3 separate regions of the Homo sapiens genome follow, and regions 1 and 3 are each linked to region 2. The links come from fine-mapping of genetic effects on gene expression. A gene starts in region 2. Each other region holds a variant in brackets. All regions are shown on one strand. Distances are from middle to middle. Region 1 holds the start of DPEP2 (dipeptidase 2). Region 2 holds the start of SLC12A4 (solute carrier family 12 member 4). Region 3 overlaps NFATC3 (nuclear factor of activated T cells 3).

Region 1 (10,496 bases), 33 kb before region 2:
AAAAAAAAAAGTGGCTGGGTGTGGTGGCTCATGCCTGTAATCACAGCACTTTGGGAGGCCAAAGAGGGAGGACTGCTTGAGCCCAGGAGTTCGTCACCAGCCTGGGGAATAAAACAGGACCCTGTCTCGGCCAGGCGCGGTGGCTCATGCCTGTAATCCCAGCACTTTGGGAGGCCGAGGCGGGTGGATCACGAGGTTAGGAGATCGAGACCATCCTGGCTAACATGGTGAAACCCCGTCTCTACTGAAAATACAAAAAAATTAGCTGGGCATGGTGGCGGGTGCCTGTAGTCCCAGCTACTCGGAAGGCGAGGCAGGAGAATGGCGTGAACGCAGGAGGCGGAGTTTGCAGTGAGCCGACATCACCCCACTGCGCTCCAGCCTGGGCAACAGAGGGAGACTCTGTCTCAAAAAAAAAAGACCCTGTCTCTACAAATTTTAAAAGAAAAGTACTGTTAACTTTTATAAGGGTCATAATGGTATGGTAATTGCCATTTATTTATATATTTATTTATTTTATTTTATTTTTCAGAAACAGGGTTTTAGTATGCTGCCCAGGCTGGCCTCAAACTCCTGGGCTCAAGCAATCCTCCTGTTTCAGCCTCCCAAATAGCTAGTAGGACTACAGGAATGGCCCAGTGCACCTGGCTTATAGTTGTCTTTTAAAAACAGCCATTACCATTTATTTATTTATTTATTTAGAGACTGAGTCTTTCTCTGCTGCCCAGGCTGGAGTACAGTGGCATGATCTCAGCTCACTGCAATCTCTGCCTCCTGGGTTCAAGCAGTTCTCCTGTCTCAGACTCCTGAGTAGCTGGGATTATAGGTGTCCTCCACGACAACCAGCTAATTTTTGTATTTTTAGCAGAGATGGGGTTCGCTATGTTAGCCAGGCTGGTCTCCAACTCCTGACCTCAGGTGATCCACCCACCTCAAGCTTCCAAAGTGCTGTGATTTCAGGCAAGAGCCACGTGCCCAGCCTAAAAAGAGCCCTTACCTTTTAGAGAGGCATACTTAAAAATGGATGAAATAGATGTCTATGATTTGCTTTAAAATAATCTGTAGAAAGAGGTGAGTGAGAGCATAAATGAAATAAGATGAGCCATCAGTTGGTAATCTTTGAAACTGGGTGATGGCTACATGGGAGTTAATACACTTTTCTCTCTCCTTTCTCATGTATTTGCAATTTTTCCTATAAAAAGTTTTTTGGTCTGGGCACAGTGGCTCATGCCTGTAATCCCAACACTGTGGGAGGCTAAGGTGGGAGGATCACTTGAGACCAGGGGTTTGAGACCAGCCTGGCAACATGGTGAAATCCCATCTCTACCAAAAAAAAAAAAAAAATTAGCTGGGTGTGGTGGCACCACCCTGTAGTCCCTGCTACTCGGGAAGCTGAGGTGAGAGGATCACCTGAGCCCCGAATTTGAGGCTACAGTGAGCCATGACGGCACCACTGCACTCCAGCCTAGGCCACAGAGGGAGATACAGTTTCAAAAAAAAAGTTTTGTGTTGTTGTTTTTAACTAAGCTTCTCAGATTCACCCAGATGCGGAGTCAGTGAGATCTCACATGGTCAGCTTCACAGGAGGGCAGGCTTTCTGCATAAAAACAGGAAGCTTAGAGAGCTCCGGGGCAGGGTGTGCTGTGACTTCACTGTGTTTTTGCAGAAACAGGTCTGATAGCCCTCGGAGATCAGCAGACAAGGTTAAGCAAGAGACAGCAAGTCTGAATTTGAGGTTAAATGTGAAATCACACATGTTGTCTAGATGTTTGGTCAGCACTGGCTCCTGGATCTTGGGGGCCTCTACAGAGCCCACCCTCCACCCCCATGTGCTTATGCCAGCACATGTGATAGCTGGAGACTTATCCAGCCACCTCACTGCACACCCCAGCAAATGGCCAGCACCAGTGGGTGATCAGGAAATGATGCCCGGACAAACTGATAGATGTAAGGAATTTGAGGCTGGGCACAGTGGCTCACGCCTGTAATCCTAGCACTCTGGGAGACTGAGGTGGGCAGATCCCTTGAGGTCATGAGTTTGAGACCAGCCTGGCCAACATGGAGAAACCCCTGTCTCTACTAAAAATAAAAAAATTAGCCAGGCATGGTGGCGTGCGCCTGTAATCCCAGGAAGCTGAGGTAAGGAATTTGAGGCCTTTCCTAGAGGCAGCAGCTGGAAGTGGAGGGATTGAAGGAACCCCTCATCTGACCAGCTGCTCAATTTTCT[T/C]ACCCACACGATAAGGCTGGTTCCTTAACTACACGGCCACGTGAAAAAAACAAAAAACAGGGCCAGGCACAGCGGCTCATGCCTATATTCCAGTACTTTGGGAGGCTGATGTGGGAGGATCACTTGAGGCCCGGAGTTCGAGACCAGCCTGGACAACATGACAAAACCCCATCGCTACTAAAAATGTGAATATTTAGCTGGGAGTGGTGGTGGGTGCCTGTATTCCTGGTTACTCTGGAGGATGAGGTATGAGAATCCCTTGAACCCTGGAGGCAGAAGTTGCAGCGAGCCGAGATTGCGCCACTGCACTCCAGCCTGAGCAACAGAGCAAGACTTCATCTCAAAAAAAAAAGAAAAAGAAAAAAAACACAATTTTGGGTCCAGGCCCTCTGGGAAGATGACTGCAGTACAAGGGGCCAAGGTTAAAGTGGATGGTGGTGAGTCAAAACTGAGCAAGAACAAGCCGAAGAGATACCTGAAAGCCGAGAAGAAAGTGGCAGAGAAGGCAGCCAAGCAGTAAGAGCTCAGTGAGAAACAGCTAAGCCCAGGTCACTGCTGCTGCCACCAACCATACCACTGACAATGGTGTGGGTCCTGAGGAGGAGAGCCTGGACCCAAATCAGTACTACAAGATCCACAGCCAAGGCCAGGCCCGGTGGTTCACTCCTGTAATCCTAGCACTTTGGGAGGCTGAGGCAGGCAGATCACTTGAAGTCAGGGGTTCGAGGCCAGCCTGGCCAACATGATGAAACCCCATCTCTACTAAAAATACAAAAATTAGCTGGGCATGGTGGCACATGCCTGTAATTCCAGCTACTTGGGAGGCTGAGGTAGGAGAATCGCTTGAATCTGGGAGGTGGAGGTTGCAGTGAGCTGAGATTGAGCCACTGCACTCCAGCCTGGGCAACAGAGCGAGACTCTGTCTCAAAAAAAAAAAAAAAAAAAAAGATTTGCAGTCAGGTAGGTCAATGGGAAAGACCCATACCCCAACGAGATCCATGTAGACATCTCCCTCACTGACTTCATCCCAGAATATTGTCACCTGCAAACTGGGGATCTCCTGACTGATATCACCTTAAACGTGACAGATAGGATCCATGCCAAAAAAGCTTTTGGAGGAAAGCTGAACTTCTATGATCTTTTTTTTTTTTTTTTTGAGATGGAATTTCACTATTGTTGCCCAGGCTGGAATGCAATGGCACAATCTCAGCTCACTGCAACCTCCTCCTCCCTAGGTTTAAGCAATTCTCCTGCCTCAGCCTCCCTAGTAGCTGGGATTACAGGCGTGCGCCACCACGCCCGGCTAATTTTGTATTTTTAGTAGAGGTGAGGTTTCTCCATGTTGGTCAGGCTGATCTCGAACTCCCAACCTCAGGTGATCTGCCTGCCTGCCTTGGCCTCCCAAAGTGCTGGGATTATAGGCGTGAGACACAGTGCCCAGCCATGAACTTCTATGATCTTTGAGCAGAGGGGGTCAAGTTGCAAGTCATGGCCAATTTCAGGAATTATAATTTCAGGAAGAATAATTTATTCATATTAATAACAAACTGCGTTGGGGAAACATAATTGGAATTCAGAGGAATCCTGGGAAAAACCAAGAAGGATGAGCTGAGCTTCATTCCCTATGAGATCACACTGCTGTGGCCTTGCTTGTATATGTTACCTCATCTTCACTTTGGCCTCAAAGACAAGGAAATAAGGTATGGTCAGAGATACTTGGACTTGATCCTGAATGAATGAGGCAGAAATTTATCATCTGCTGTAAGATCATCACATGTATAATAAGTTTCTTAGGCCAGGTGCAGTGGCTCACGCCTGTAATCCCAGCACTTTGGGAGGCCAAGGCAGGCAGATTGCCTGAGGTCAGGAGTTCGAGACCAGTCTGGACGACATGGTAAAACCCCACCTCTACTAAAAATACAAAAATTAGATGGGCGTGGTGGCAGGTGCCTATAATCCTAGCTACTCAGGAGGCTGAAGCAGAATTACTTGAACCCAGGAGGTGGAGGTTGCAGTAAGCCAAGATTGCACCACTATACTCCAGCCTGAGCAACAAGAAAACTCCATCTCAAAAAAAAAAAAAAAGTTTCTTGGATGAGCTGGGATTCCTAGAGCTTGAAACTCCCATGAATGAACGTCATCCCAGGGGAGCTATGACCAAGCCTTTCATCACTTATCACAACAAGCTGCACATGAACTACTCTAGAACTCTACCATAAGATGCTAGTGGTTGGTGGCATTGACCAGGTTTATGAAATTGCATTCCAGTTCTGGAATGAAGGAATTGATTTGACGTAAAATCCTGAGTTCAGCACCCCTGAGTTCTACATGGCCTAGACTATCACAATCTCACGGAAATCACGGGGAAGATGGTTCCAGGGATGGTGAAGCATAATACAGGTAGTTACAAGGTCACCTACTACCCAGATGTCCCAGAGGGATAAGCCTGCAATATTGACTTCACCCTACCCTTCCGGAGAATCAGCATGATAGAAGAGCTTGAGAAAGCCCTGGGGGTGAAGCTGCCAGAAAATAACCTATTTGAAACTGAAGCAATTGGCAAAATTCTTGATAATATCTGCGTGCAAATGCTATTGCGTGCCCTCCACCTAGGACCACAGCCAGGCTCCTTGACAAGCTTGTTGGGGGAGTTCCTGGAAGTGATTTGCAACAATTCTACATTCATCTGTGATCACCCCCAGATAATGAGCCCTTTGGCTAAATGGCACTACTCAAAAGGTCTGACCCAGCGCTTTAAGCTATTTGTCATAAAGAAAGCGATAAGCAATGCCTACACTGATCTAAATGATCCTATGCAGCAGTGGCAGCTTTTTGAAGAACAGGCTAAGGCCGCAGGTGATGATGAGGCCCTGTCCGTAGATGAAAACTTTGTTGCCGCCATGGAATACAGGCTGTCCCCCACAACTGCCTGGGGCATGGTTATTGACCGAGTCACCATGTTTCTCACAGATTCCACCAGCAACTCGGAAGGCTGAGGCAGGAGGATTGCCTGAGCCCAGGAGTTTGAAGTTTCAGTGAACAACACAGTGAGACCCTGTCTCTAAAAGGAAATTTTTTTTTTTTGAGACAGAGTTTCGCTCTTGTTGCCCAGGCTGGAGTGCAGTGGCACGATCTCAGCTCACTGCAACCTCCGCCTCCCGGGTTCAAGCGATTCTCCTGCTTCAGCCTCCCAAGCAGCTGGGATTACAGGTGTGCACTGCCACACCTGGCTAATTTTTGTATTTTTTATAAAGACGGGGCTTCATCATGTTGCCCAGGCTGCTCTCGAACTCCTGAGCTCAAGCAATTCACCTGCCTTGGTCTCCCAAAGTGCTAGGATTACAGGCGTGAGCCACCATACCCAACCTTTTAAAATTTTTTTCTTTTCTTTTCTTTATTCCTTCCTTCCTTCCTTCTTTTCTCTTTTTTTAATCTTACAAAAAATGTTTCGGAAAAGGTATTTTATTTTTAAGACAGGGTCTTGCTCTTTCCCAGAGGCTGGAATGCAGTGGAGCGACCATAGCTCACTGTGGCCTCTAACTTCTGGGCTCAAGCAATTCTCCCACCTCAGCCTCCTGAGTAGCTGAGACTACAGACATGTGCCACCATGACCAGCTACTTTTTAAAAAATTTTTTTGTAGAGAAGGGGTCTCACCATGTTTCCCAGGCTGGTCTTGAACTCCTGGCCTCAAGCAATCCTCATGCCTTGGCCTCCCAAAGTGCTAGGATTACAGGCATGAGCCACCATCTCTTGTCCCCTGAGATACTTTTAATGGCCTTGCTGGATCCAGCTCCTGCACCCCAGGGCCCTCCTGCCTCCTCCCCACCCTCGGCTGATGGCACTACCTCAAGGACATGGGATAGCATGCAGCCTTCTGTCCCAGATCCTCTGTACTGTCTGAAATCAGGCAGAACCCAGCTGCAAGAGGAACTCAATGGTACACATGGGACCCAAGTCATCAATCGTCTCCATCAGAAAGCAACCCAGGGCCAGGCACAGTGGCTCAGGCCTGTAATCCCAGCACTTTGGGAGTCCAAGGCGGGTGGATCACCTGAGGCCGGGAGTTCAAGGCCAATGTAGTGAAATCCCGTCTCTACTAAAAATACAAAAATTTGCTGGACATGGTGGTGCATGCCTGTAGCCCCAGCTACTAGGGAGGCTGAGGTTGGAGAATTGCTTGAACCTGGGAGGCGGAGGTTGCAGTGAGCCAAAGTGGCACCACTGCACTCCAGCCTGGGCAACAGAGCAAGATCCTGTCTCAAAAAAAAAAAAAAAAAGAAAAGAAAAAAGGCCGGGCGCAGTGGCTCATGCCTGTAATCCCAGCACTTTCAGAGGCCAAGGCTGGTGGATCACCCGAGGTCAGGAGTTCGAGACAATCCAGCCTCATCAACATGGTGAAACCCCATCTCTACTAAAAAAAATACAAAAATTAGCCAGCCTGGTGGTGCATGCCTGTAATCCCACGTACTTGGGAGGCTGAGGCAGGAGAATCGCTTGAACCTGGAAGGTGGAGGTTGCAGTGAGCCGAGATCGTGCCCTCGCACTCCAAAAAAAAAAAAAAAAAGCACCCCAGGAATGTTGGACAGAGAGGCTGGCGGGGTAGGGGTTGGTTGGTAAGGCTTGAGCAGAAGGTTCTAGATGCATTCAGGAGATAAAGATGCATTTGGGGTTATTGCACTTCTCCTAGAAACATAAACATTGACTTCCTTTTGTGGAAGAAAAATGTTATGTTAGCTATTTGACGTTTCAGGAAGGGTGGCTTCAGCTTGGTGATTGGAGGATGTTTGTCTACAGTGGCCAGGCTGCTTTCTGGCTTGGAAGACTATTGTTTCTTGGGAATTGTCTGTATCAGACATCATGGGAGCAGATCCAGGGCGACATCAAAGGGAAGCATGAGTCTCCAGGACCAGAGGGGCTTGGATGCAGATGATCATCATCTGGGCACTGCTGGATACTGAGTAAGCCCCAGCTGCACCCCACCTCTGCGCTCTGAGCATGGGAGGCAGCCTGTGCAGCTATAACTCAGCCTGACTTTTTCCTTCCCTGCATACTCTTGAAATACACTGGAGATGAGTAGGGGCGAGTGAGCTGCACACCAGAATAAGTTTGGTCCTTGGAGCAAACTGTTTCTACTGCTGCCTCCTCTGCAGGTCTTGATTTATGCAAACACTGCATAGAAGAGGAAGTAGAGGGAAAAGCTGTTCACCCACCTACTCCTTCCTGGTAGCAAGATTTCCTATCCTGGCCTTGCCTCAACAGCCCTACCAATTGGAGGCTGAGGTTGTGCCAAGGCTCTATGGGGGGACGTAGCATCACTGAGGTGGCCAGATTTTGGAGGACAGGAAAGTTTGTGCTATTTGCTGAGACTGGAGAGGCTGGTGAGAGCAGACTCTCCATGAGTTGAAAGCCAAAGAAAGAAATTCGGTAGATTTCTGCAATGAGAAGCCACGGAAGAACTTCAGGCAGGAGGATGCATTGGATCTTGTTTTCGTTTTGTTAGAGATGGGGTCTCACTCTGTCGCCCAGGCTAGGGAGCAGTGGTGCCATCGTCTCTCACTGCAACCTTAAACTCCTGGGCTCAGGCGAACCTCCCACCTCAGCCTCGTAAGTACCTGGAACCACAGGCATGCACCACTTTTTTTTTTCCTTTTTCTTAGAGTTCTCATTATGTTGCCTAGACTGGTCTCAAACCTCCGGCTTCAAGAGATCCTCTCACCTCGACCTTCAAATTACTGGGATTACAGGCATGAGCCACCATGTCCTACCAGACTTTGTTAAAAGAGGAACAGGCCAGGCATCGTGGGCTCACATGAACACTCATGCCCCAGAAGTAAACAAGTGTTAGCCAACCAGGAGGCCTATCCTCCCCCTAACCTCACCCAAAGCCATCTCTGTGCCCTCCCCCTTGCAGGGGAAACAGCACACACTAGTGAAATCTTGTCTTAGTGTGTCCGGAATTGGTGGGTTCTTGGTCTCACTGAGTTCTAGAATGAAGCTGCAGACCCTCGCAGTGAGTGTTACAGCTCTTAAGGTAGCGCGTCTGGAGTTTGTTTCTTTTGATGTTTGGATGTTTGGAGTTTCTTCCTTCTGGTGGGTTTGTGGTCTTGTTGGCTCAGGAGTGAAGCTGCAGACCTTCGTGGTGAGTGTTACAGCTTTTAAGGCAGTGCGTCTGGAGTCGTTTGTTCCTCCCAGTGGGCTTGTGGTCTCGCTGGCTTCAGGAGTGAAGCTGCAGACCTTCGCGGTGAGTGTTAAAGCTCATAAAAGCAGCATGGACCCAAAGAGTGAACAGTAGCAAGATTTACTGCAAAGAGCAAAAGAACAAAGCTTCCACAGTGTGGAAGGGGACCAGAACAGGTAGCCACTGCGGGCTCAGGCAGCCTGCTTTTATTCTCTTATCTGGCCCCACCCACATCCTGCTGATTGGTAGAGCCGAGTGGTCTGTTTTGACAGGGTGCTGATTGGTGCGTTTACAATCCCTGAGCTAGACACAAAGGTTCTCCACGTCGCCACCAGATTAGCTAAATACAGAGTGTCGACACAAAGGTTCTCCAAGGCCCCACCAGAGCAGCTAGATACAGAGTGTCAGTTGGTGCATTCACAAACTCTGAGCTAGACACAGGGTGCTGATTGGTGTGTTTACAAACCTTGAGCTAGATACTGAGTGCCGACTGGTGTATTTACAATCCTGAGCTAGACGTAAAGATTGTCCACGTCCCCACCAGACTCAGGAGCACAACTGGCTTCACCCAGTGGATCCCGCACCAGGGATGCAGGTGGAGCTGCCTGCCAGTCCTGCGCCATGCGCCCGCACTCCTCAGCCCTGTGGTGGTCGATGGGACTGGGCGCTGTGGAGCAGGGGGCGGCGCTCACCGGGGAGGCTCCGGCCGCACAGGAGCCCATGGAGGGGGTGGGAGGCTCAGGCATGGAGGGCTGCAGGTCCCGAGCCCTGCCCCCCCGGGAAGGCAGCTAAGGCCCGGTGAGAAGTCGAGCGCAGCGCCTGTGAGCTGGCACTGCTGGGGGACCCAGTACATCCTCCGCAGCCACTGGCCCGGGTGCCAAGCCCCTCATTGCCCGGGGCCAGCAGGGCCCGCGGGCCGCTCCGAGTGCGGGCCCGCCAAGCCCACGCCCACCCGAAACTCCAGCTGGCCCGCAAGCGCCGCTCGCAGCCCCGGTTCCCACTCGCGCCTCTCCCTCCACACCTCCCTGCAAGCTGAGGGAGCTGGCTCTGGCCTTGGCCAGCCCAGAAAGGGGCTCCTACAGTGCAGCGGTGGGCTGAAGAGCTCTTCAAGTGCCGCCAAAGTGGGAGCCCAGGCAGAGGAGGCCCCGAGAGCGAGCGAGGGCTGTGAGGACTGGCAGCACGCTGTCACCTCTCATTAGGAGCTGCCAATATCAGTGGCACAGACCTGAGCACAGGGATAATTTGGGGTCAGAGGCTACAGTCTAAGTTAGCTAGATGCTGGCAGTGGGCAGAGTGGAAACAAGGCAGAGGCGGGGAAACTCAGGGCCTGACTCCAGAGCCGACCTTAAGTGTCACCGCTGATTCCTCCTTACTGTCTCCCACCAACCCTGCTTCAAAGCATCTCCAAATCCTGGGTTCAACTTCCAAACATGTCCCAGGAATGTCTCCTTCCTGTTCCCACTGCTTCTCCCCCTTACAGGCCCCTTCATTCCTTACCCCTCCTGATCTCCTGGCCTCCAGCCCATTCCCTACAGAAAAGCCATACCTATTTCTTCCATTTTAAAAAATGTGAGCTGGGCGCGGTGGCTCATGCCTGTAATCCTAGCACTTTGGGAGGCCAAGGTGAGTGGATCACGAGGTCGGGAGATCAAGACCATCCTGGCTAACACGGTGAAACCCCGTCTCTACTAAAAATACAAAAAATTAGCCGGGCGTGTTGGCGGGCACCTATAGTCCCAGCTACTCGGGAGGCTGCGGCAGGAGAATGGCCTGAACCCGGGAGGCGGAGCTTGCAGTGAGCCGAGATTGTGCCACTGCACTCCAGCCTGGGCGACAGAGCGAGATTCCATCTCAAAATAAATAAACAAATAAATATAAAAATAAAAAATTTGGCCAAGGGTCGGGGGTGGCTCATGCCTGTAATCCCAGCACTTTGGGAGGTCAAGGCAGGCGGATCACCTGAGGTCAGGAGTTCGAGACCAGCCTGGCCAACATGGCAAAACCCCATCTCTACTAAAAATACAAAAATTAGCCGGGAGTGGTGGCATGCGCCCGTAATCTCAGCTACTCGGGAGGCTGAGGCAGGAGAA
Region 2 (11,398 bases):
GGACTATTTGTTTATCATATCAATACCACACTGTCTTAATTATGGCAACTTTAAAATAAGTTTTGAGGCCGGGCACAGTGGCTCATGCCTGTAATCCCAGCACTTTGTGAGGGCAAGGCACGCAGATCACTTCAGGTCAGGAGTTTGAGACCAGCCTGGCCAACTCAGGAGGTTGAGACGTGAGAATTGCTTGAACCTAGGAGGAGGACGTTTCAGTGAACCGAGATCACACTACTGCACTCCAGCGTGGGCAACAGAGTGAAACTGTGTCTCATAAAATATAAAATAAATGGCCAGGCGCAGTGGCTCACACCTGTAATCCCAGCACTTTGGGAGGCCGAGGCAGGTGGATCACGAGGTCAGGAGATTGAGACCATCCTGACTAACACGGTGAAACCACGTCTTTACTAAAAACAAAAAATTAGCCCAGTGTGGTGGTGAGCGCCTGTAGTCCCAGCTATTCAGGAGGCTGAAGCAGGAGAATTTCCTGAACCTAGGCGGAGCTTGCAGTGAGCCGAGATCACGCCACTGCATTCAAGCCTGGGCGACAGAGTGAGACTCCGTCTCAAAAATAAATAAAATAAAATAAATAGTTTTTAATTGGGCACAGAGTGGCTCATGCCTGAAATCCCAGCACTTTGGGAGGCTGAGGCAGGAGGATTGCTTGAACCCAGCATTTCGAGACCAACCTGAGCAATTTAGTGAGACCTCATCTCTGAAAAAAAAAAAAAATTTAATTAGCCAAGTGTGGTGGCCCGTGCCTTTGATCCCAGCTACTTGGGAGGCTGAGGTGGGAGGATCACTTGAGCCTGGGAAGCAGAAGTTGTCATGAGCTGAGATCGTGCTGCTACACTCCAGCCTGGGCAACAGAGTGAGACCCTGTCTCAAAAAAAAAAAAAGCAAAGAAATATTTCATATCTGATGCTGTACTTAGCAGTATTAGTTTATCCTTATAATTTCAGCAATTTGTTTTTATTGAAGTGTAATTCATATGCCATAAAATTAACCATTTTATTTATTTATTTATTTTATTTATTTATTTTTTTTTTTGAGACGGAGTCTGGCTCTGTCACCCAGGCTGGAGTGCAGTGGCGCAATCTCGGCTCGCTGTGAACTCCGCCTCCCGGGTTCATGCCATTCTCCTGCCTCAGCCTCCTGAGTAGCTGGGACTACAGGCGCCTGCCACCACGCCCGGCTAATTTTTTGTATTTTTAGTAGAGACCGGGTTTCACCATGTTAGCCAGGATGGTCTCAATCTCCTGACCTCGTGATCCGCCCACCTCAGCCTCCCAAAGTGCTGGGATCACAGGTGTGAGCCACCGCGCCCAGCTAAAATTAACCATTTTAAAGTAAGCAGCTCAGTGGCTTTAGTACATTCACAATGTTGTGCAGCCACCACTTCTATCTAGTTCCAAAACATTTTCATCTTAACAGGAAACCCTACACCCACCCTATACCCATGAAGCAGTTAACCCCCTTATGCTTTTTTTTTTTTTTTCTTTGAGATGGAGTCTTGCTCTTGTCGCCCAGGCTGGAGTGCAATGGCCAGATCTCAGCTCACTGCAACCTCCGCCTGCCAGGTTCCAGTGATTCTCCTGCCTTAGTCTCCCAAGTAGCTGGGATTACAGGCACGCGCCACCACACCCAGCAAATTTTTGTATTTTTAGTAGAGATGAGGTTTCACCATGTTGGCCAGGCTGGTCTCAAACTCCTGACCTCAGGTGATCCTCCCCCCTTGGCCTCCCAAAGTGCTGGGATTACAGGCATGAGCCACTCCGCCCACCAGAGACCCTGTCTTTAAAAAAAAATGAAAGAAAAAGAACAAGCAGAAATGTAAGACCCAGGCATGGTAGTGTGTGCCTGTAGTCCCAGGCACCCACCCTATACCCATTAAGCAGTTAACCACCACATGCTTTTTTCTGTTTTTTGAGACGGAGTTTTGCTCTTGTTGCCCGGGCTGGAGTGCAATGGTGCGATCTTGACTCACTGCAACCTCCACCTCCTAGGTTCAAGCAATTCTCCTGCCTCAGCCTCCCAAGTAGCTGGGATTACAGGTGCCTGCCATCACGCCCAACTAATTTTTGTATTTTTAGTAGAAACGAGGTTTCACCATGTTGGTCAGGATGGTCTTGAACTCCTGACCTCAGGTGATCCAACCACCTTGACCTCCCAAAGTGCTAGGATTACAGGCATGAGCCATGGTGCCTGGCCTGCTTTTTTTTTTTTTTTTTTTGAGACGGAGTCCTGCTCAGTCGCCCAGGCTGGAGTACAGTGGCATGATCTCAGCTCACTGCAACCTCCGCCTCCCAGGTTTAAGCAATTCTTGTGCCTCAGCCTCCGGAGTAGCTGGAATTACAGACATGTGCCACCACACCTGGCTAATTTTTCTTTTTCAGACAGAGTCTCGCTCTGTCTCCCAGGCTGGAATGCAGTGGCCCGATCTTGGCTCACTGCAACCTCCATCTCCTGGGTTCAAGTGATTATCCTGCCTCAGCCTCCTAGATAGCTGGGACTACAGGCACATGCCACCACGCCAGGCTAATTGTTTTATTTTATTTATTTATTTATTTTATTTATTTATTTTTATTATTATTATTTTGAGATGGAGTCTTGTTCTGTCGCCCAGGCTGGAGTGCAGTTGCCCAGGCAACTTGCACTGTTGCCCAGGCTGGAGTGCAGTGGTGCCATCTCAGCTCACTGCAACTTCCACCTCCCAGGTTTAAGCAATTCTCCCACCTCAGCCTCCCAAGTAGCTGGGATTACAGGTGCTTGCCACCACACCCATCCAAATTTTGTATTTTTAGTAGGGATGGGGTTTCACCATGTTGACCAGGCTGGTCTCGAACTCCTGACCTCAGGTGATCTGCCTGCCTCGGCCTCCCAAAGTGCTGGGATTATAGGTGGGAGCCACCACTCCCAACTGAATTTTGAATTTTCGATCTAGATATTCTAGATATTCCTGATTTATGGTTTTTTTTTTTTGAGACAGAGTCTCACTCTGTCGCCCAGGCTGGAGTGCCAGTGGCGCCATCTCCGCTCACCGCAAGCTCCACCTCCCGGGTACACGCCATTCTCCTGCCTCAGCCTTCCCAGTAGCTGGGACTACAGGCGCCCGCCACCACACCCAGCTAATTTTTTTATATTTTTAGTAGAGACGGGGTTTCACCGTGTTAGGCAGGATAGTCTCGATCTCCTGACCTCGTGATCTGCCCACCTCAGCCTTCCAAAGGGCTGGGATTACAGGCGTGAGCCACCGCGCCCGGCCTAATGTCTATGCTCCTCAAATGTCTTTTGAGTTTGGCCTGTGAGGTTATTTTTCCTGTGATGGCTGTGATATTGGAGAAGATGTGTACTGGCCTCGGAGTTCCCCATCGTCCCCTCTGTGTTTGTCAGTTGGGCTCTAGTGGCCTATCTCCCTGGCACAACACCCCACCCTACCCCTGAGGCTGCAGGGTGTGCAGTGCCAGGGTGGGAGCTATACGGAAACTTTGCAGAGCAAAGAGGTAGACTAAGAGGGCACCTGTTCATTCTTTATTTGAAAAATGTGTTGGGACCGGGAGCAGTGGCTCACGACTGTAATCCTAGCACTTTAGGAGAGGCCAAGGTGGGAGGATCGCTGAGCCCAGGAGTTTGAGACCAGCCTGTGCAGCAAAGTGAGACCCTGTCTCTATGAGAAATGAATAAATAAAATTAGCTGGGCATGGTGGCATCTTAGCTACTTGGGAGGCTGAGGGGAGAGGATCATTTGAGGAGTTTGAGGCTGCAGTGAGCTGTGATTGCACCACTGCACTCCAGCCCAAAGTGACAGAGCAAGACCCTCTCTCTAAATTAAAACAAACAAACAAACACCTCTAAGATCTTAAAAAAAAAAAATGTGTTGGGGCCAGCCAGGTTTTGAGGATACCAGAGTGACAAGACCGACAGGGTCCTGCCCTTGCAAAGTCCACAGTATAGATAGAATCTTAATCAGTGATTTCCACCAATCCATTTCTGCCTGCAATGGGAACTATGAAGGGAAAGGCTCAGGGCAGCCCAGTCCAGATGAGGGGTGGGGTGGGGTGGCAGGGCATGTGTCTGAGAAATCTGAGGGGAGGTGGTGCTCCCCACCAAGACCTCCTGGATCAGGAGGTTTTTTGTTTGTTTGTTTGTTTTTGAGATAGAGTCTTGCTCTGTTGCCCAGGCTGGAGTGCAATGGCACTATCTCGGCTCACTGCAACCTCTGCCTCCGTGGTTCAAGTGATTCTCCTGCCTCAGCCTCCCGAGTAGCTGGGATTACAGGCACCTGCCACCACACCCAGCTAATTTTTGTATTTTTATTAGAGACGGGGTTTCACCATGCTGGCCAGGCTGGTCTCGAACTCCCAGCCTCAGGCGATCCACCCGCCTTGGCCTCCCAAAGTTCTGGGATTACAGGCTTGAGCCACCAGGCCGGCCTTGGAGGTTTTTTGTCTGTTTGAGACAGTGTTTCGCTCTTGCTGGAGTGCAATGGCGCCATCTCGGTTCACTGAAACCTCTGCCTCCCGGGTTCAAGTGATTCTCCTGCCTCAGCCTCCCAACTAGCTGGGATTACAAGCACCCGCCACCACGCCCAGCTAATTTTTTTGTATTTTTAGTAGAGACGGGGTTTCACTATTTGACCACGCTGGTCTCAAACTCCTGACCTCAGGTGATCCTCCCGCCTCAGCCTCCCAAAGTGTTGGGATTACCGGCGTGAGCCACCGCGCCAGGCCTGGATCAGGAATTTGATAAGTGAGGGTAGGGACAGAGGCTAGGTAGATGTCCCCCAGAGTGAACAGTGGGTGATGCCCAGAAACTATAGGTCTCAGGTGAGAGAGAGAGATTTGAAGGGCTGAGGCTGCGAGGTGGGTGGCGAGGGATGCGCCTGCAGAGGTCGGGGTCCGGCCGCATTGGGCAGGGCCTTATGGGCCCGGAGCTAGTAGGATTTTCCTTCAGAAGAGGCGGCTCTACGTGAGCAGGGGCGAGGGCAGGGAGTCCAGTAGGAAGGCCGCTACTGTGGGCGGCCGAAGGTGGCGTGAGGGGCGGGGGGGTCAGGTCGGCGGGCCCGCTGCGGGGGCCCTGGGGGAGGGGTCAGAGGGTGGTAAGCTCGGGGGTCGTCTTGCGGGGCCCAGCGGCTCTGATTCCGTACCCCCCACCCCAAGGGCTGGAGGCTGGCAGTAGGCGTAGTCAGAGGACGCCACCCGAGCCACGCGAGGGAGAAGAGTGGAGATAGACAAGTAAGATGGGCTCTGGGGTTTTCTGATAGAGAAAAAAATAGTAAAGCCAGCTAGATAAGTAATCTGAAGCAGTGGAGAAGAAAGTGAAAGAAACGTTAAAAGCAAATAAGTAAACGGCTTGGATAGAGGAACACCCAGGAGGCGAGATAGAGAAAGTTAAAATGAAGGGACTTGGCTACAGCACCCAGTGCACTGTCCCAAAAAGGCAAGCGAGGCAAGCGGGGCGGGGAAGGGTGGGTGTGCGTGTTCTTCCTGCGGAGGACGCAGCAGCCCCTGGGGAGGGACCGAGAATCCCCAGCTGCCTCCAACAGGAGAGGCTGCAGCTAGAGGGCCCAGGGCTGGGACGGGACCTTCGCGGGGGTCTGGTTCCCAGGGTCGCGGAGAAATGGGATGCAGACGCTGGAAATGGGAAGGAGGTATACGGGGTTGGTGGGAGGCCCTGGGCAGGTGGCTTCTGCAGTCCTGGGCCGGTCCGGCCTACCCTGCCCCGTCCCTAAGTAACAGAGCGCTTCGTAAGCCCAGGGCGCAGAGCCAGGACACTCCGCGACCCATCTCACGGAGCCCTAAAACAACCCCGAGGTGGAAGTGTGTTTCCCCCATTTTACAAATGTTGCATCTGGGGCTCAGAGAGGGCGGCCTCTCACCCGAGGTCACACAGGAATCGGGCCCGCCCCCAGGCCGTGGAGCCACTAGGAGTGCTCCCGCCCAGGGGTCTTCCCGCCACCAGGGCCCCCGCTCTGGGAGGAGCCGGCCGAGCCCCTCCCGCTCTCCGCCCCCGAGGGGCGGCCCGGGGGGCGGGCGGAGGAAGTGAGCGCAGCGGGGAGGAATGCGAGCGGGCGGGGCGTGTCGGCCCGGGGCGGCGGGGACAGCGGCGGGGACAGCGGCGGGCGGCTGGGACGGCGGGTGCGGCGGGGCCGAGCCCGCACGATGCCTCACTTCACCGTGGTGCCAGTGGACGGGCCGAGGCGCGGCGACTATGACAACCTCGAGGGGCTCAGTTGGGTGGACTACGGGGAGCGCGCCGAGCTGGATGACTCGGACGGTGAGGGCGCGTTCTGAGGGGCCGTGGCGGGGCAGCGGGGCCTGCCACCCGGGGCCGCCATCCCGGGCCCGCGCCCGCACCTATCCCGGGACCTTGCGCGCACACGTCGGTGCGGACTCAACTTTTTTTGGACCGCGCCGCTGCCACTGGCTCCCCGCCCTGCGCGCGCAGACACGATTTTCCTCGGCCCCCGGCGCCCGCGCCCGGCCGCTTTCTCCACCCCAGCTCCTCCCCTGTGGGCCCCGGGCGGGGGCTGCAGACGTGGCCGCCCAGGGAGGCCAGCCGGCCGGGCCGCCCGGCTTGGGGACAGGGCCGAGACCCCATCTCAGGCCCTTCCCGGCCCTTCAACTTCGGTGAATCCCACATCCTTTTCTCGCCTCGGTTCCTCATTTGAGATTCAGCGTCTTTGCCTTTGAGACGATCCGCTCCCCAACTGCCCAAACCCCTCCGTGTGCCTCTCTGCGCCTACCTGCACTCTGGCCAGAGTGTGCCTACTGGGGGGTCTATGGGTAACTGCCCGTGAGTGCGCCGGTGTAGATCTGTAGGGACAGTGGGCCTCAGTGAAGCACTCACATGGAGCCGGACGTGTCTAGGCACTTGAAGTGAGTTAACTCGTTTAATCCTCCAGCATCACCCTTGGGATAAGTACTGTTACTCTCATTAGGAAGCAGTGAAGGGAGGGGTGGCGGTTATATAACTTGCCCAGGGGCAGTCAAGCCTGGGTTTGAGATTCCAGCACCTTAACTCTTTAACTTAGGTGCCAGGGCCGAGAGGTAAGCCCCATCTCCCTCCTCCTTCCTCCCAGGTGCCCGCGTCTCTCCACAGCCCTTTCTCTATCTCCTACCCCAGGAGGCCCCCCAGAGGGCTGTTCTTGTTAAGGCCCACCCTCGGAGCACGAACACGGCTGAGGACATGTGTCTGTGTACGTAGTGGCATATGCATGTGTAATTGTGCTTGTACAAGTGTGTAGCTGTGGGTATCACAGGGTGAAGGCTGGTTCAGGTCAGGGCATTCTCACAGCCCCTGTTTCCTGCAGGGTTGACAGTGATGAGGATGGTGATTTGACTGATGATAAATGCCTGTGATATCTGTGACCGATCATGATGGAGATATGTAGGAAGTGTGTGGTTGACACGTGTCAGGTGACGTTGTCTGGACCTCTGATCCATCTGTGATGGTGACACGACTGAGATGATCCATGCCCAATGTGAATGATGGCTATGTGTGTGTATCACTTGACTGCCATGTGCAGAGGTAGCACAGGACAGTGGCATGGGCTGCTGGACATTGCAGAGGTTTTACAGGCTTGACAGCTGTGTGAGTGCCCCAGCCTCCATGCCCTTGTCTGCCCCTAGCTTGATTCAAGTGGTCAAAGCAAAAGCCAGCATTCCTGCTTCCCTAACCCTGGGAGGACCTCTCTCCCCAGAGGGTAGACTGGGCTGCATCCCCAGGATCAGCCTGGACCAGTGGGCAGGCAGAGCTGAGCCTAGCTGCTGGCCCCACCTTGGCCACGCCTTGGCCCCTACAGGGTGACTGGAGGGACCTGGAGCTACATTGGCTGAGTCCTGCTAGATCCCCGCAAGCTAGGCCAGCTCCTCCCACTGCCTCCCTTCCTCTTTCTCCTCCTCTTACTCCTTTCCAGCCAGACCTTGGCTGTCTACAGGATGGGGGACACCCTGAGCCCCGGTGAGTGATTTTGATCCTTGGTGGGGACTGCAAAGGGTCAGAGGGCACAAAGCACAGTGAGCCTCAGATCTATCTCCTGCCCCTTCCCCAGTTCAGTGCCCACACCTCTGCTCTGGGAGGCCTAGATGGGCTTGCTCATCCAGCCCACCTTGGCCTGTGGGCAGGGGGTAGGGAGGTGCTGGAGGGGGCACCTCAGGCAGATGTCCGTGTACACAGGGATCAGGAGGGTCACCTGGATCCCCACCTGCCACTGGTGCAGTCACAGTTGCTGGTGGGAACACAGTTGTGTAGCTCACAGGCAGTCCCTAGGCCTAGGCCATATTCAGATTTACTGGGGATCTCAGGTGGTGTCTGAGCAGCTTCAGCCTGGCAGGCATGTCCAGACCTGCCCTGGAATTTTTGGAATGGCTGAGGCCAGAACAGGAGGTCTGAAGCCGAGGGCAGTACAGACATCCAGGCACTACTTAGACCCTTACATTCCCACAAGCCCTTGGGAGCTTTGGGGGAACTCCGAGGAGTGCCCACTGGGCGTCTGGCACTAACTGTCCCTTTTCTAGTGCATCTGGGCAGTTGGAAAAACAAGTGTTACAATCTCCACTTCATAGAAGAGGAAACCAAGGCCGCACAGGGAGTAAGCATGTCTCCCTGGGTCACACGGGGGAAGGTCTGGGAATCCAAGCCAGTCTGCCGCAGTCTGAATGCCCAGAGGCCTAGGTATGCGTACCCTGGCCAAATTGCAGCACTCTTCTCTATTTTTAAAGATTGTGCTGCATAGATGGACTGGAGTCTGTAGTAGGAACGGAACCTGCAGCTCCGCCCCTACAGGGCTCTGATGGACCCTGGGACCCAGATGTGGCCTTCTCCCTGGGTGACCTTGCCTCTGAACATCTTTGAGCTTCACTCTCCTTGTCCCTAAAAGGTAGTAAATGCTCTCTACTGGAATGTTGCTGTGAGAACTAGAGACAACTTTTGGAAGGGCCCCGAGCCATCCTAGAGTGATAGCTGAAGGGACAAGGGATAGGCTAGGTCTTAGAGGACCATTTACAGGCATTTGTGGGGAGCTGCTGTGTGCTCAGCTGTATATTTTCTGGATAGCAATACAGTCTACCCAGAAAGACCAGGCAACAGTGATGGGGCAGGCTGTAGTACATGAGTTTAGAATAAATTATAATTGATTTCCAGCCTACTTCCACAAAAGAATCAGAAGAAATAGCCAACAAAAGTGTCTCCCCAAGTGATTGTTACTCTCAGGAAGATTGAAAACCATGCAGAGGAAGGGGGCAAGCACTCAGGTGAGACAGATGGTGACTTTATCTAAAGAGTAAATTTAGCTTGGAGATTCCTGGCAGCCAAAGCAGAAAGAGAAGTAAGACGAGCTGTATAACTGGCATTTTCTGACAAAATGAAGCACCTGATTTATCAAAGGGAGACACTTTTTTTGTCACAAAAATCCAAAAGTAATTTTCAAAGGCTTTTCACTGAAGAGCCATTAATGTCATTAATGTAAGAGGCAGAGTGTTACTGGGTTTTCAGATTTTTCTTGGGACTCCTTCTGATCCTGAACAAGCATGGAGGGTACAGCAGATATCATAGAGTGTCCGACATGACCCCGCCTGGCTTTAACATGACACGGTGGACTGTCTTGACCTCTGGCTGCCTTTGTCCACTGTGCCATTGGCATTGACCTATGTGAATGTGGGGCTGAGCTGCTTGGCTCACTTAGCTAGTCCAGGTTGCTGGGTGTAGCAGGTGTGCCACTTTCACATGCTGTGGGAAGGAAGAACTGACTTTGCCCCAGAAACTGTCATGGGCACACTTGATTTGTTAGTTTCCTTGGGGGATAAAGAATCCACAGCACAGCACCTGCTGAGTGGTTGTTGGCTCAGAGAAAGCAATTGAAGCCTCATGCTGATAGCAAGAGATGTATCAGATACAGGAGGATGCCTCAATCAGCATTCTCAGCTGCAGTCAAGAAAAATGAATTGTGGCCTATGTAAACAGAAAAGGTTGGCGGGCATGGCCAGTGCATGGCCCAATCACACCACTAGCCTGGGCTGGTGGTGACAGTTCTGTTGCCATCTCCATCACTGGACACCATGCCAGTCCTTCTCATGTCAGAACTACATACTGCTGCCATCCAACACCAAGATGTGTGCTTTCCATTTGCTGTGAGGCCTTGAGCCAGGGCCGGGGCTGCGAGGGTAGCTGGGGTGGAGGGAACACTCAGCACCTAGAAAACGAGTGCTTGGCGTTCTGCTTGGTGGGAAGCTGGGAATGGCACCCACCGAGACTCATAAGGGACAAGAGTTGGAAAACAGGGAAGAATGAATGATAGGAGGCCAGAAAAAACAGTCGAGCTTTGGGAGTTGAGGCAGGCTTATTGAAAAGGAGCATTTCACTCCTTTTGGCGAGATTTCTCAGAGCTGGGGCACTGGCTCATCAGCCTAGGGCTGTAGGCGGAGGTTTGCCTGGGGCAAGCGGCGGGATCTGCGGGCAAGGGGGCCATTGTGTTGCTCCTGCCAGCAGTCCCAGCTCCCATTTTTCTCCCTGCTCAGTCCGACACCCACCCGTCCGACTTTCTTAGGCAACCCTAGAAGGCTCCTGGAATCCACTTCCGCTCTCCACGGCCTGGGGCTTGCCCCACCTCCCGGCATGCCCCGGGCTGCCCTGCAGGACGCCCCCCGCGCAGTGCATGGTGGGGTAGCCAGCCGGCCACCTTTGGGCCATGGCAGCCGAAGGTGCTGTGTGCGGCTTCGTCTATCTGGAGGGCACTGCCTGGGCGGTCCCTGAGGACACCGAACCCTTGGCATCCTGCACATTGGGTACTCCGGAAAGACCGGGAAAGGGACTGGGGCGTGGAGGCGATCTGGGGGCGGGTCAAACGCTGGCCCCGCCCCTCTGCAGGCCCCGTCCCTCAGTGTCCATACGTGCTTGTGCTAGGGCGCCTGCGCCCTCACCTGGATTCCCTTCACTGGAGGGAATGATGTCCCAGGTTTTGGTCACTGGCCTCTCTCTGGCTATCCCTGGGCCTTCAAGAGCATTGGCACGGTGCCATGTGAAAACTGAGTTGCAACCTGGTGACACTGCAGCTCCAAAGTGCTCCACAGAAATGATTTGGGGACTGGCTTTCTGGGAAGGGGCCCAGGCTGGGGGGCTCAGGAAGCAGGCCCTGATTGTCCCTCTCTCTTCACAGGACATGGCAACCACAGAGAGAGCAGCCCTTTTCTTTCCCCCTTGGAGGCTTCCAGAGGAATTGACTACTATGACAGGAACCTGGCACTGTTTGAGGTAGCTGAGGAGCCATTTTGGGCCACAGGTTTGGCACACAGAGGCTTTAGCTAAGCAGGCAGGCTGGACACGTGGGCCTCCTCTGTCTTGCTCTTCCTCTCATCTCCTCTTGTGTTCCTGGTTCTCATGGCAGCCGGGCTGCAGTTCC
Region 3 (5,000 bases), 170 kb before region 2:
AGCTGATCTTTGACAAAGCATACAAAAACATAAATTGAAAAAAGGATACCCTATTCAATAAATGGTTCTGGGAAAACAGGACAGCCACACGTAGAAGAATGAAACTGGATCCCTGTCTCTCACCACATATAAAAATCAACTCAAGATGGATTAAAGACTTAAAAGACCTGAAACCATAAAAATCCTACAGGAAAACCTAGGAAAAACTTCTGGACATCACCCTAGGCAAAGAATTTATGATTAAGACCCCAAAAACAAATGTAACAAAACCAAAAATAAATAAATGGGGCCTAATTAAACTAAAAAGATTCTGCACTGTGGAAGAAATAATCATCGCAATAAACAGACAACCCACAGAATGGGAGAAAATATTAGCAAACTATACATCCAATAAAGGACTAATACCCAGAATCTACAAGGAACTCAAATCAGCAAGAAAAAAACAAATAATCCCATCAAAAAGTAGGCAAATGACATGAACAGACACTTCTCAAAAGAAGAAATACAAATGGCCCACAAACGTATGAAAAAAATGCTCAACATCACTAACCATCAGGTAAATGCAAATTAAAACCACAATGAGATACCGCCTTCCTCCAGCCAGAATGGCCGTTATTAAAAAGCCAAGAAAACAATAGATGTTGGCATCGATGTGATGAAAAGGGAACACTTGTCCACTGCTGATGGGAATGTAAATTATAAATTAAAACAATTATGGAAAACAGTATGGAGATTTCTCAAAAAACTAAAAGTAGATCTACCATTCAATCCGACCATCCCACTACCAGGTATCTATACAAAGGAAAAGAAGTCATTATGTCAAAAAGACACCTGCATACATACATTATTCACAGCACAATTAACAACTGCAAAGACATGGAACCAACCTAAATGCCCATCAGCCATGAGTAGATGAAGAAAATGTGGTATATCTACACCACGGAATGCTACTCAGCCATAAAAAAAATGAGATAATGTCTTTTGCAGCAACTTGGATGGTACTGAAGGCCATTATTCAAAGTGAAGTAACTCAGGAATGGAAAACCAAATACCACTGGAAAGTCAGTATGTTTTCACTTATAAGTGGGAGCAAAGCTATGGGTACACAAAGGCATAAAGAGTGGTATAATGGATATTGTAGACTCAGAAGAGGGTAGGATAGGAGGGGGTGAAGGACAGAAAACTACATATTAGGTACAATGTACACTACTTGGGTGAGAGGTGCACTGAAATCTCAGACTTCACCACTACACAATTCATCCATTTAACAAAAAACCACTTGTACCCCAAAAGCTACTGAAATAAAATATATAAATAATTCATTAACATACTATAGTCTCTCTGTCTTATGGGCTTCTAAACCAGCACTGTCCAAGATAACTTTCTGCAGTCACTAAAATACTCCTTTTTTTTATTTCAACAGACTTTTGGGTAAAATATCTCCAATTTAAAAAAAAAAATCCATGATCATTTTGTATTAATTTTATAAGATATAAGGTTTATGTCAAGGCTTATTTTCTTGCCTACGGATATCCAGTTGCTCTGACATCATCTGTTGAAAAGAAAATATAGTCAGTATCCACATGTGGCTACTAAACCTTGGAATGTTGTCAATGCAACTGAATAACTGAATTTTTAATTTCAGTTTAATTTAAATTGAAATATCCACGTGTAGCTAGTGGCTTCTGGATTCCACTTTTGGACAGTGCAGCTCTAAACCCTTCCCTCTACTTAATACTTTTCCCTCCTTAGTATCTACCTTTTCCCTAGATGTCTGCTTATTAATTAGCTAGACACTATCTTCAAATAAGAAGTCCCCTTTCTGGCCAGGCGCAGTGGCTCATGCCAGTAATCCCAACGTGGGCGGGTCACCTGAGGCCAGGAGTTCCGAGACCAGCCGGACCACCATGGTGAAACCCTGTCTCTACTAAAAATACAAAAAAACTAGCCAGGCGTGGTGGCATGAGCCTTGTAGTCCCAACTACTTGGGAGGCTGAGGCATGAGAATTGCTTAAACCTGGGAGGCAGAGGTTGCAGTGAGCCAAGATTGCACGACTGTACTCCAGCCTGGGTGACAGAATGAGACTCTGTCTCAAAAAATAATAATAATAAAAATTTAAAAATAAAAATCCCTCTTCTTTCTTGTGGAAATAAAAAATAAGTACCTGATTCAACTCCATCAAATTTCAGGTCTGTATTTGCTCTCACAAAGATCTGAATTTCCTCCATTAAACATTTATCATACTTTATTGGTACTACCTTATTTGCAAGTCTCAATGGACAATAAAGTTCATGGGAGTAGTCAACATGTCTGATTTCCCTCAGTGAACCCCCAGCTACATTAGCAAACTGCTTTGAATGTATTATTTGGTGACCACATTAATGAATCAGATAACTTATTTTGAAGAAAAGAAAAAGTTAATTTGTCAGTTGGCTACAAGGTAGGTGGTATTTTCCAACAGCAGCACAGCTTGCATTCCCTCATCATTTCAAAAAATATGTATTTCAGAAATTTCTTAGCTCTTTTGAAATTCTCCTTTGCAGAATAACAGGAAGATCATTATAACTGATGTTTAAGTACCCTTCTACTTTCCATTTTCACATATCACTAGCCCATTAATTCACAACTCCTTAAAATGTCAGTAACAAACCTAGCTTAATTCTAGGATGCCAATGTAGATATCTTATTCTGCTACATACTCTTCATCAGTGTTGAAGTGTTGGTCAAACTGTTCAAAGAAACCTAAGTAATGATACTAGCTAACTTTTACTGAGCATTTACAATGTGCAAGGTACCATGCCATGTTCCTCACAATGTTTCATTTACTCCTCACAACAGCTCTTAGGTAGATGATATTATATATTATTCTCATTTTATAAAGAAAAAATCCCAAGGTAAAGTTCTCTTCATAATTAACCTCTATCGCATCAATACTAATTTCCAATATAGCACTTACTATATTCTAATGTTTTGTTTATTTACTCATTGTCTCTCTCAGTATAAAGTGAGAAAGGCCCTTGAGGACTGGAGTTTTGTCTCTCTTG[T/C]TCATCTCTGCATCCCTAGCACCTACAATACTGTCTATAACGTAGTGAGCAATCAAAAAATACATATCGAATAAGTAAATGGATAGATAGGTGAATAAATTAAGCAATGAATGATTAAATAAAAGGTCTAGAAAGAAAGGTTAAGTTACTTGGTCAAGGATACAGTAAAATCCAGGATTCAACCAAAACAGTCTGGCTCTAGAGCCCGTATTAGTGACTTAGCCATGATTTATTCCTGTGTGGAGCATGTGGCATAGAAGGCACACTAACCACCAAAGATTTAAGTATAGAGTTCTATATTATACTACAGAATACAGAGTTTTGATGAGGAAAGGCTGCCCAGCCAGGGACTACTTTTCCCAGTACTTCTGCATGTAAGTAGGGCCATGTGACTACTTGTAGCCAAAAAATTGTAAGTGGTGATGATTGATAGTAATTTCCAGGTTAATGTAGTTAAGTATCTTGAGTGCTTTCCATACACCTTCTTCTTTCCCATGGACAGTAGAAGCTGTGCATCAAAGACGACATCAAAAGATGAACGTATCTTGGATTCCTGAGCAACAATTTGAAAGAAAATGCAAAATAAACTTTTAAAAAATTTTTTTGGTCTTAAACCACTGAGAATTGGGGATTATTAGTTACAGTAGTTAGGCTACCATGATTAATCCAAGGAAGGAGAGCTTGAACTATAATAATAGTAAACAAGCATTAAGATTTTTATCAGGGGCCAGGCACGGTGGCTTACACCTGTAATCCCAGCACTTTGGGAGGCTGAGGTGGTGCATTACTTGAGGTCAGGAGTTCGAGACTAGCCTGGCCAACATGACGAAACCCCATCTCTACTAAAAATACAAAAATTAACTGGGTGGGTGTGTTGGTGGGTGCCTGTAATCCTAGCTACTTGGGAGGTTGAGGCAGGAGAATCACTAGATCCCAGCAGGCAGGGGTTGCAGTGAACTGAGATGTGGGCCACTGCACTCTAGCCCGGGCAACAGCACGAGACTCTGTCTCAAAGAAAAAAAAATTTTTTTTTAAAGTAAGAGAAAGAGTATCTGACTTTAAGTCAAAGACTAGGCTTTCTAAAAGAGTTTATTTGGAGAATTAAATGAGATAACGTGAAAGTGTTTTAGAAAATGAAACATACGGCCGGGCACGGTGGCTCACGCCTGTAATCCCAGCACTTTGGGAGGCCGACCGAGGAGGGCGGATCACGAGGTCAGAAGATCGTGACCATCCTGGCTAACACGGTGAAACCCCATCTCTACTAAAAAAATACAAAAAAATTAGCTGGGCGTGGTGGCGGGCACCTGTAGTCCCAGCTACTCGGGAGGCTGAGGCAGGAGAATGGCGTGAACCCAGGAGGCGGAGCTTGCAGTGAGCGGAGATCGAGCCACTGCACTCCGGCCTGGGTGACTGAGCAAGACTGTTTCAAAAAAAAAAAAAAAGAAGGAAAATGAAATATACTAAGAAATTATGAGATAATTACAGTGTAAGAAGTAATATGGTAAAACAGAAAGAGAAACGACAGTCAAAAGACCTGGGCTTAAGACCTCTCTGCCAATTACAACATACATAACCTCAGATCACCTGTAAAATGTACAGTCATGAGCTACATAACAGTGGTTCGGTAAATGACAGACCGTATATAATGGTGGTCCCACAGGTAACAACAGAGCTGAAAAAGTCCTATTGCCTAGTGACATCTTGATGTTCCTGACTCTGTGAAGGCCTGGGCTAATGTGTGTGTTTGTGTCAGCATTTTAAACAAAAAAGTTTTAAAAGTAAATAAAAATAAAAAATAAAAAATTTGAACATAGAAAAATGTTTATGGAATAAGGATATAAAGAAATAAAATATCTTTGTACAGCTGCACAACGTGTCTGTGTTTTAAACTGTTACTACAAAAGACAAAAGATTTTTTTAAAATTCACAACTTATAAAGCGAAAAAGTTAAT

The links. PIP is the estimated chance that this variant, and not a neighbour inherited with it, causes the effect.
Region 1: its variant is fine-mapped to the expression of SLC12A4 in whole blood (TOPMed, PIP above 0.99).
Region 3: its variant is fine-mapped to the expression of SLC12A4 in whole blood (TOPMed, PIP 0.99).

Annotation. Positions count from the first base shown.
Region 1 is chr16:67,997,138-68,007,633 of GRCh38, reverse strand. DPEP2 (dipeptidase 2) reads left to right here and starts at 8,150. Exons shown (of 11, transcript NM_022355.4): 1 at 8,150-8,259. It also overlaps the pseudogene KARS1P3. RefSeq lists enhancers at 275-1,048, 9,211-9,727. The variant T/C (reference allele first, on the strand shown) is at 2,228.
Region 2 is chr16:67,963,317-67,974,714 of GRCh38, reverse strand. SLC12A4 (solute carrier family 12 member 4) reads left to right here and starts at 6,078. Exons shown (of 24, transcript NM_005072.5): 1 at 6,078-6,276; 2 at 11,156-11,250. The coding sequence starts at 6,162. RefSeq lists silencers at 5,826-6,155, 6,286-6,615, 7,126-7,185, 9,508-9,679 and an enhancer at 7,944-8,462.
Region 3 is chr16:68,137,109-68,142,108 of GRCh38, reverse strand. All of the region lies in intron 3 of NFATC3 (nuclear factor of activated T cells 3), which reads right to left. Among named protein-coding and RNA genes, the nearest start is that of NFATC3, 54 kb to the right of the region's middle. The variant T/C (reference allele first, on the strand shown) is at 3,046.